2 separate regions of the Homo sapiens genome follow, and region 2 is reported to be linked to region 1. The links are microRNA targets in miRTarBase. Many come from high-throughput screens and were not tested one by one. Region 1 holds a microRNA gene; the other region holds the end of a gene's coding sequence.
The links. The annotated mature microRNA hsa-miR-4741 reads CGGGCUGUCCGGAGGGGUCGGCU and lies in region 1 at 2,859-2,881, shown strand. An mRNA with a match to its seed (bases 2 to 7 or 8) in the 3' UTR can be bound and repressed. Matches are read on the target gene's strand: a 7mer-m8 pairs with bases 2 to 8, a 7mer-A1 pairs with bases 2 to 7 and ends in A, and an 8mer does both.

Region 2: the mRNA of ZSCAN25 is a reported target of hsa-miR-4741. Seed matches in the 3' UTR shown: 8mer at 1,221-1,228 and 7mer-A1 at 2,358-2,364.

What each region holds. Positions count from the first base shown.
Region 1 is chr18:22,930,549-22,934,939 of GRCh38, forward strand. It overlaps MIR4741 (microRNA 4741), which reads left to right and starts at 2,801; the gene lies at 2,801-2,890. It overlaps RBBP8 (RB binding protein 8, endonuclease), which reads left to right and starts at 2,780. Exons shown (of 19, transcript NM_002894.3): 1 at 2,780-3,016. RBBP8-AS1 (RBBP8 antisense RNA 1) reads right to left here and starts at 3,216. Exons shown (of 5, transcript NR_198963.1): 1 at 3,040-3,216. RefSeq lists enhancers at 2,510-3,350, 3,034-3,163, 3,524-3,573 and a silencer at 2,824-2,903.
Region 2 is chr7:99,629,328-99,633,718 of GRCh38, forward strand. It overlaps ZSCAN25 (zinc finger and SCAN domain containing 25), which reads left to right. Exons shown (of 8, transcript NM_145115.3): 8 at 1-3,081. The coding sequence ends at 693. Among named protein-coding and RNA genes, the nearest start is that of ZSCAN25, 15 kb to the left of the region's middle. RefSeq lists an enhancer at 510-1,156.

The DNA of each region.
Region 1 (4,391 bases):
TAGAACCTATCTATGAGGATGCCCGCCATTTCCATTGTTAAAGTGGCCATATAAAATCTCATTTAAAAATCTAAGAATTTTGAATGTACCCAAAGGTTTCCATTTACATAGAAATGGGATCCACCAGGGAATGCCCATTTCATTCATTCATAGAATATTGATTTGGTGGCAGACACTGGGCTAGTTCCTGGAGATAAAAGGGTGAACAAACCTTTTTTATTTTTTATTTTTTTAATTTTAAGACAGGGTCTCTCGCTCTGTCACCTAGGCTGGAGTACAGTGGCACAATCATAGTTCACTGCAGCCTTGAACTCCTGGGCTCAAGCAATCCTCCCACCTCAGCCTCCACAGTAACTAGAACTAGAGGCACGAACCACTGTGTCCAGCTATTTTGGTTTGATTTTTAGAATAGGAGACAAGATTTCACTATGTTGCCCAAGCTCATCTTGAACTCCTGGCCTCAAGTGATCCTCTTGCCTCAGCCACCCAAAGTCTGGCCCAAGACGTGGTTTTTTATCTCAAGAAATTTACAGTCCAGTGGGGAGACAGAATTAATTAAATAACTAAAACAATAAAAACTGTAAGATGGGGAGGTTACATGGTACTGTAGGAGGATCTAGTAGAAGAGACTATTGAAATAAGATAAAAACATGATTAGTAGATAGCTGGGGCAAAGAGTGGGGGTAGGTTTGGTGGAGAACTCCAGGCAGAGACAATAGCACGCAATGGCCTAGGAGACATCAAAAGTCTAGTGAGACCAGAGGACAGAAAATGTCTGGAAATAAAGCCAAAGGGGTAGCAGAGGCAATTCAAAGGGGCTTCCTTCACAGAGTAACTGGAAGCCACTGAAAGGGTTTAAGCAGCATAGTGACATTAACAGATTTACTTTTCAAGATCACAGTAGCTGCAGTATAGAGAAGTGGTCTCAAAGTAGACACAATTTAAGGTGGAGGAGGGAAGATGTATTTTTATTCTATTTTTTATCCTTTAAAAATGCTTTTAAAATGGATTATAATCATATTAGCTAAGAAATACTAATTATGGCTAGCTTTTGGGCACATAGTATATATCTGAATACTAAGCAGTTTACATATATTCATTTAATCTTAATACCCTGTGAGGTTGGTACTATTATTATCCTCAATTTACAGGTAGGTAAAATGGGACAGCGAGCTTAAGCAGTCAGTCCAAAGTCACTCAGTAAGGAAGTATTAGAGCAGGATTTAAACCCAGATGTCTGACTTCAGAGCCTGTAACTTCATTAGATCATGTACCATTTTTCAACAGTACATGTATGTAATTTAAAATTAAATATATATATGGAGAATAGAAGTTCAAATTTTTTTCTGAACACCAGTGAAAACAAAGATTTAGGAGGGGTGGTTGGTAGCGTGGATGTGGAAAGGAGCCTAGCAGTAGACTAGGTAAGAAATAACAGTATCTTGGATTATGGAGGTAGTGATGGAGAGAAGGGGATGGATTTACATGTTTAGTAAGTAAAATTGGACTGCGTGATGGCTTGGATATGGAAGTTAGGGATGAATAAAGTGTCAAGGATGACTCTTTGGTTTCTGACTTGCATAAATGGATTAGAGAGTGAGACACAGGCAGAGGCCATAGGAACAGGTTGGGTCATTCTGCTCAGTTTTTCTTTGGACCACAGTAGAGACCACAGCACACTGCTCTTTCAATACTCTGTTAAATGACAAACTTATTACAGGTTATTTCTGTCATAAACATAAAAGCTTCACTCTGTCAATTATGTTTCCTATCTTGCGTTAAAAATTACATAGTCAAAATTTCATCCATTTTCTTTTAAAAATGTGGAGTTAAGTCTTATAAAATGGGGAAGTGAATGATAGTTGCTGTAACAGGCTAATAGAAGGTTTAGCACCCCTCTTCTGTATACTAACTTTTTAAGTTATATTTATTCATCCCTTAAGATGTGGGACAGGTGGAAAAATTACCTTTCCACTTTGTATTTATGATTTCTAAGTACTAAACTTTTAAAGCCTGTTAATATTATCCCTTCCCAGGTCTTAGAATAATTACACAAAAGTACTGGACTGGTTTAAAAGATATTTGATTCTAGTCTATTTTGTTCATTTGTAGAATTTCTAGTGGTCTAAAAACGATTCTTTTACAAATCAGGAGAAATAGGAATACCTACTATCGGTTTGAATCTCAAACGAACAGCCACAAGAAAAATGGACTTTTTAAAAAAAATTATCTAACAGCATGTTGTCCCAATAAATAATGCTGAAGGAGATTCCTTCTCGTTTCAAATTTGCCAGAAACTTCCCGTTTAACCTCAGCAAAATACAGATCGTTTTGATCTATGGCGTTACCGCACAACCCTGTCAGGTCACATCACTAAACTGCAGATAACAGCGACAAGGCCGAAAACTATGTTAGACGGATCCGCGTCCATACCCCCCATCAGTTAATTTTAACTCTTCATTCGGTACAGGTCACTCTACACATGCTTCCCTGCAAAATGCTTAAGCTAGACACAGTGTACAGATAACTTTCACAGAACCGCAAGGGCTTGATGCTCCCCCAACAGAACGGCTTGAGCTTTCCCCAGCGCAATTCAGAAATGCTGTGGCGGTCGCCAGACTCTTCGGGTAGCTCCCGGCAGCTCCGAGGTAGCGCTCCCCTCCCCAACCATCGCCCTCCGGGATGGGCCGCACCGAAGAGCCCGCTCCTCAGCTAGGGCACGAAGTGCGCCGCCGCGATGGGCAGCTGGAGGAAGGGGCGTGACGCAAGTGGAACTCCCGCGTGACGTCGCGCGGGCTCCCGGGCGGGGCGGGTCCGGCCGCCTCCGAGCCCGGCCGGCAGCCCCCGGCCTTAAAGCGCGGGCTGTCCGGAGGGGTCGGCTTTCCCACCGAGGATTTGGCACTCTGGTGAGGGAAAAGGGCGAAAGAGAAAAGCGAGCAGCCGTCCTTTCACAGCCTCAGAAAGTGCTCGCTTCCCTTCGGGGGCTTTCGCGAATCCCGAGGCAATCTCGGAGGCGGTGAGTAAAAGCAATCTCTTTACCCCACCCGGAGCTCTGGGTCGGAGCGACTGCTTCTGGTCTGGAGCTGCGTGCTTGGCGAAGGGCTCCCGGGGTAGGGGTGGCTCCCGGCTCTGGGGTTGTGTCTGATGAAATAGGCCGGGCCCGGGCTACACTCGGTGGTGGTGGACCGGCGGGAGGACGAGCGCTACCTCAGTACTACTTCTGGGTCTCCCGCGCGGGCTGAGGAAGCGCCTTTCGCCGCCAAGCCCGCCCCGCGCATGCGCCGACTGCGGCTCGCGCGCGCGCTTCGGAGGTTTTTTGGCCAGACCCGCACGCGGAACCGGCGCGGGCACCTGGGGAGAAATGGATGGAGAAGGGACCTGGCTGGAAAGCCTTTGCCCCGCTGCTCTGCTCCGCCCATAAGAGGACCCCTGAAATGTCCCGTGCAGTTTGTTCAAGTCCCCTGTGTGATGAAATGTGCCTCTCGCCTTACCCGTGTGAGAATACCTGTGGTGTGGCAGCGAGTATTTTGGTGAGCACCTGCAGTGTAGTGGTTTATACTAAGGAATACACACAAATTACAGGCCTTTGAGCCCAGAATGCAACTTGGGAGGTAAGACGTGACGTTCTGAGAGATTGAAAAATGTACATTGTCGTCGTGCCTCGAATAACGGTTCATTGCAGAGAGAGATGCTAACAAAAAGTGCCGGGCATGCGGGTAGGTGGAAAGGGTTTTGCGAGCCAGAATTTGCAAGTTGAATGTTTTGTTTTTATGTTTTGTTTTTAAGGCACTGTACATCACTTACTTGAAGATAGATACGTAAAGGATGCTTATTTTACACTCTTTAAACGAATATGTTAATACTTTTTCGGTCATTGAAGTAATTAAACCTTCATTTTAAACTGTTGACTTAATAGAAATCGTTTATGTCTTCTTTTTTTTTCTTTTTGCTGCAGAGAGGTATTTTTTCTTTATTTTATTATTATTTTTTATACTTTAAGTTCTAGGGTACATATGCACGACGTGCAGGTTTGTTACATATGCATACATGTGCCATGTTGGTGTGCTGCACCCATTAACTCGTCATTTACTTTAGGTATATCTCCTAATCCTATCCCTCCCCCCACCCCACGGCAGGCCCCGGTGTGTGACGTTCCCCTTCCTGTGTCCAGGTGTTCTCATTGTTCAGTTCCCACCTATGATTGAGAACATGCGGGCTACAGAGAGGTATTTTACAGTTATTGGTCTCATGACTTGATTTCCATCCCTGACATAGCCATGTCCCAGCTGTGTGACCTTGGACATTTACTGCCTTACGCCTCTTCCCCCAACTCTAAAATGAAATTATAGTAGCTGTCTTACAGAGTTTTTCTGAAGGTTAGGTAGAATATA
Region 2 (4,391 bases), not on the chromosome of region 1:
GGTGGCCCTGCAGGCAGTGCGCCTGGGCTTCCTCCTCCCCAGCACGGTGCCATCCCCCTGCCTGACGAAGTCAAAACCCACAGCTCCTTCTGGAAGCCTTTCCAGTGCCCTGAGTGTGGGAAAGGATTCAGTCGGAGCTCCAATCTCGTCAGGCACCAGCGAACCCACGAAGAGAAGTCTTATGGCTGTGTGGAGTGTGGGAAGGGCTTTACCCTGAGAGAATACCTGATGAAGCACCAGAGAACCCACCTGGGAAAGAGGCCCTACGTGTGCAGCGAGTGCTGGAAAACCTTCAGCCAGAGACACCACCTGGAGGTGCACCAGCGCAGCCACACTGGGGAGAAGCCCTACAAGTGCGGGGACTGCTGGAAGAGCTTCAGCCGCAGGCAGCACCTGCAGGTGCACCGGAGGACGCACACCGGGGAGAAGCCCTACACCTGCGAGTGTGGCAAGAGCTTCAGCAGGAATGCCAATCTGGCGGTGCACCGGCGTGCCCACACTGGCGAGAAGCCATATGGGTGCCAGGTGTGCGGGAAGCGGTTCAGCAAAGGGGAGCGGCTGGTCCGACACCAGAGAATCCATACAGGGGAGAAGCCCTACCACTGTCCTGCCTGCGGGCGAAGCTTCAACCAGAGGTCCATCCTCAACCGGCACCAGAAGACCCAGCACCGCCAGGAGCCGCTGGTGCAGTGAGCATAGCAGGTGGCAGGCAGCACCATCATTCATCTTTCTCACTGCAGGGCCTTGCGGGGTGCAAGGTGATGGCTGCAGGAAAGCACTGGTCCCATCGCCTTCCCACCCATTCGCCAACGCGGGAAAGGCAAGGCCTGGCTTACTTAGAGCTTCCAGAGAGCATAGCTGCTTCCATCTCTTACCCAAGTGGTGCTAAACAATTTTTCTTCCAATGTTTGAGGGAAGCAGTCTCCTGCGGTTCAGTTCAGGCTGAGATTTTCTCCTTCAGTGGACTGTCTGTGTCCCCCTGCCGAACAAAGCTGGGAGTAAAGGCAAAACCTTGACACGTGTTGGTAGCTGGGACCTCATCTTCCTGAGGGCTCTGTCTTGCCTGCAGGGTCATAGCTCAGACTCTTCCCCCACCCCCTCTCTTTTCCATTGAACAAACATTTATTGAACATCCTCTGAGCACCTGGCCGTGGGAATGCCGTGGTGAATGAGAGACTAGACGTGATGCCTCTGGGGGTTGTGCGTTGGGGATGCATGCGACAGCCCATGACCCGAGGCATTCTCAGGGTATCTGTGCTGTGTGCCCGTGAGAACATCTTCCCATGACCACTCCTGCCCTCCTGCCCCGTGCTGGATCTTCCCTCCCCAGCTGGGATCTGCTCCCAGGCAACTGTGTGAATTTTACATTATTTGGAGCCTCATCTGTGTCAGGCTATAACATTCTATCCTCATCTGTAAAACTTCCCCGTCCATTATTCCTTGCACTATAACAACTGTCAACACACCAACTATTAGGAAGTTAGTATTTTGCTATTGATCACTGAATAAACATCAGAGTATTTTAAAAAACAGTTCTCTAGAAAGAACTGTTATAATTAAAATGAGTCTGAAAGATGAACTCTAGTATTAATGCCCTATATTTGATGGCACTTTATAGTTCATAAAATTAATTTCACCCCATTCTCATTGGACCCATTTCCCAAGTATTTATTGAGGCCCTGTAACAAACATGTCAGGAACTCTTCTGGGTGCTTGAGACACATCCATGAATAAAATAGGGGGAGAAGCTGTTGACCTCGTAGAGCTTATGTCTCGTGGATGTACCTGATCTTCAGAACCCGTGGATATTCCTGCAAATCCTCTGGGCCTGTATTCATTGCTTTGTCAGCATCTTGCCCTGAAATGCATTTGTCACCTACCTCTTGTTACTAAATGGTCTCTGCCCTCCAGACCCTTGTCATCCAAGGCACTAGGGGTCCTGGACACCCACTGGGGATGATGAGCTGGTAGCGACCTGTTTTGCATGAGTGCCAAGTCAGGAAAAATAAAGATATTTGTAGGCATTAAAAAAAAATACATTTCTTTAAAAATGAGAAGATGCAATATTTGTAAACTGTTGAAGCTTCCTTATTGTGCCATCACTTAAGGGTTTCATTTCTGTTTAAAGTTCTGGAAGCTGCATAACTAGCGTGGACTGACTGCTGTGTCATTGTGCTGTGCCTTTGAACCCTGGCTGAGTGAGTGAGTTTGTCCTTTGTTGATAGTGTCCTATAATTGCAAAATGTGGTTTGTCTTCTGATGCCTCTTAATACCAGATTCTTTTACTGAGATTTTTTTTTTTCATTTTCCATTGTAAATAAGGTAAATGGTAATGACTAACACAAAGCTGTATTACTCAGCCCACTTTGAAACGTGGTTTTATCACCTGTTCTTGTTAGGCAGCATGGTGTCTAATTTTGGCTTAGCAAATGACGCTCCTTGGTCTTCCTGGCTCATTAGCTGTGCCCACGAGGCTGCACTGACTGGGTCGTAAATGTATCTGAGATGTCCACACGGGGCTGCTGCTGCTCCTCTGTAATACTGAGGTCCACATGCAAAATCAGCTTTTTTTCCCCCGTAATTATCAGAGCAGCTAGGCAGGGCTGACAGCCAGGCAGACTCAGTGGGAGGCTTCTGGCCTGAGTGTGGCCTTCCCCAGAGGGTGGTTTTCCAAAGGCAGGTGGGGACTGGGGAGGCCTCGGGGGGCTGCTTGTCATTACCTGAATCACAGATGCTCTTTTGTCATACACAGCCAGCATTCCTCTGGGTTTCAGCAAGTTGGCATATCTTAAGCTTCAGAAGGAGCTGGGCCTTGCTGACTTTCCTATCTGGCCTCTTCCCTATCTCCTGTGGGGCCAAGAGCTTAGGACAGTGTCTCAGAAAAGCCTCTAAGTAGGGGGTTTTTCCCATGGGATTGTGGTAGTCTGATTTTTCATATCTATTCAAATGTTAAGAAATATTTTGTTTTCTGTATTTTTCTATTCTTTAGAAATTTTTTTATAATAGATAATTTCAAACCTATATAAATAAATCCTTATGTATTTATCATTTGACTTTATTATAAACTCATAATCAATCTTGTTTCATCTCTGTCCACTCCTTCCTCCCCGTCTTCCTCCCCCACTGAAGTTTCGAAGTGTATCCCAAGTGTTGTTTATAACCATTTCAGTGTGTACCTGTAAAAGGTAAGGGCGGCTGGGTGTGGTGGCTTACACCTGTGATCCCACCACTTTGGGAGGCCAAGGTGGGATTGCTTGAGAGGAGTTCGAGACCAGCCTGAGCAACATAGTGAGACCTCATCTACAAACAAATATTAACTGGGCATGGGTGGTGCATGCCTGTGGTCCCAGCTATTCAGGAGGCTGAGGCTGGGCATCACTTGACCCCAAGAGGTTGAGGTTGCAGTGAGCCCTGATTGTGCCATTGCACTCCAGCCTGGGAGACAGAGCAAGACCCTGTCTCAAAACAAAACAGTTCCTTAATGTCAAAATATCCAGTGAATTTTAAGAACCCACCTAATTTTTCAATATAATATAATTTGTTGCTTTGTCTCTTAAGGCTTATAATCTGTAGTACTTATCCTTTTCTTCTTGAGATTTATTCATTTTAAAAAACTCGATCATTTATCCTGGAGAGTTTTTTACATTCTGCATTTTCTGTTGTTTTTTTTTTTTTTGAGCTGGAGTCTCGCTCTGTTGCCCAGGCTGGAGTGCAGTGGCACAGTCTCAGCTCACCGCAACCTCCCTGTCCCGGGTTCAAGCGATTCTCCTGCCTCAGCCTCCCAAGTAGCTGGGATTACAGGCATGTGCCACCATGCCCAGCTAATCATTCTGCATTTTCTGTTTGCATACCCATGGCGTGATTTAACATATTTCCCTGCCTTCTGTATTATCTAAAAATGTAGAAGTGTTTAGTGGTGTAATCAGATTCATATTTCACATTTTGGCAAGAACACATTATAGATTGTGACATGCCCTGTTTCTCTTCATATGATTTTAGAAGCCTAGATCTGCTTCTTTCGTTAGTTCTGTAAATGCTTCATCATTTAGTAGTTGGAATATTGTAAGAAATTTCCCTTCATTAACTTAGGTTACCCTTAGATATAGTTCATACAGGGAAGGCAAGAAAATGCTTGATCCTCCTCTTTATTTGCCTGTTTTCAGAATAATGAGCTAGTTACTTTTTGCTTCCTGTAAAGGCAGTCAAGTCTGTAGAAATCAATGCATTCATAGCTTTTTGCTTTTATTGGTTTTTTTGAGACAGAGTCTTGCTCTGTCACCCAGGCTGGAATGCAGTGGTGCAATTGTAGTTCACTGCAGCCTCAAACTGCCAGGCTAAGGTGCTACCCCTTCCTTGGCCTTGCAAAGTATTGAGATTACAGGTGTGGGCCA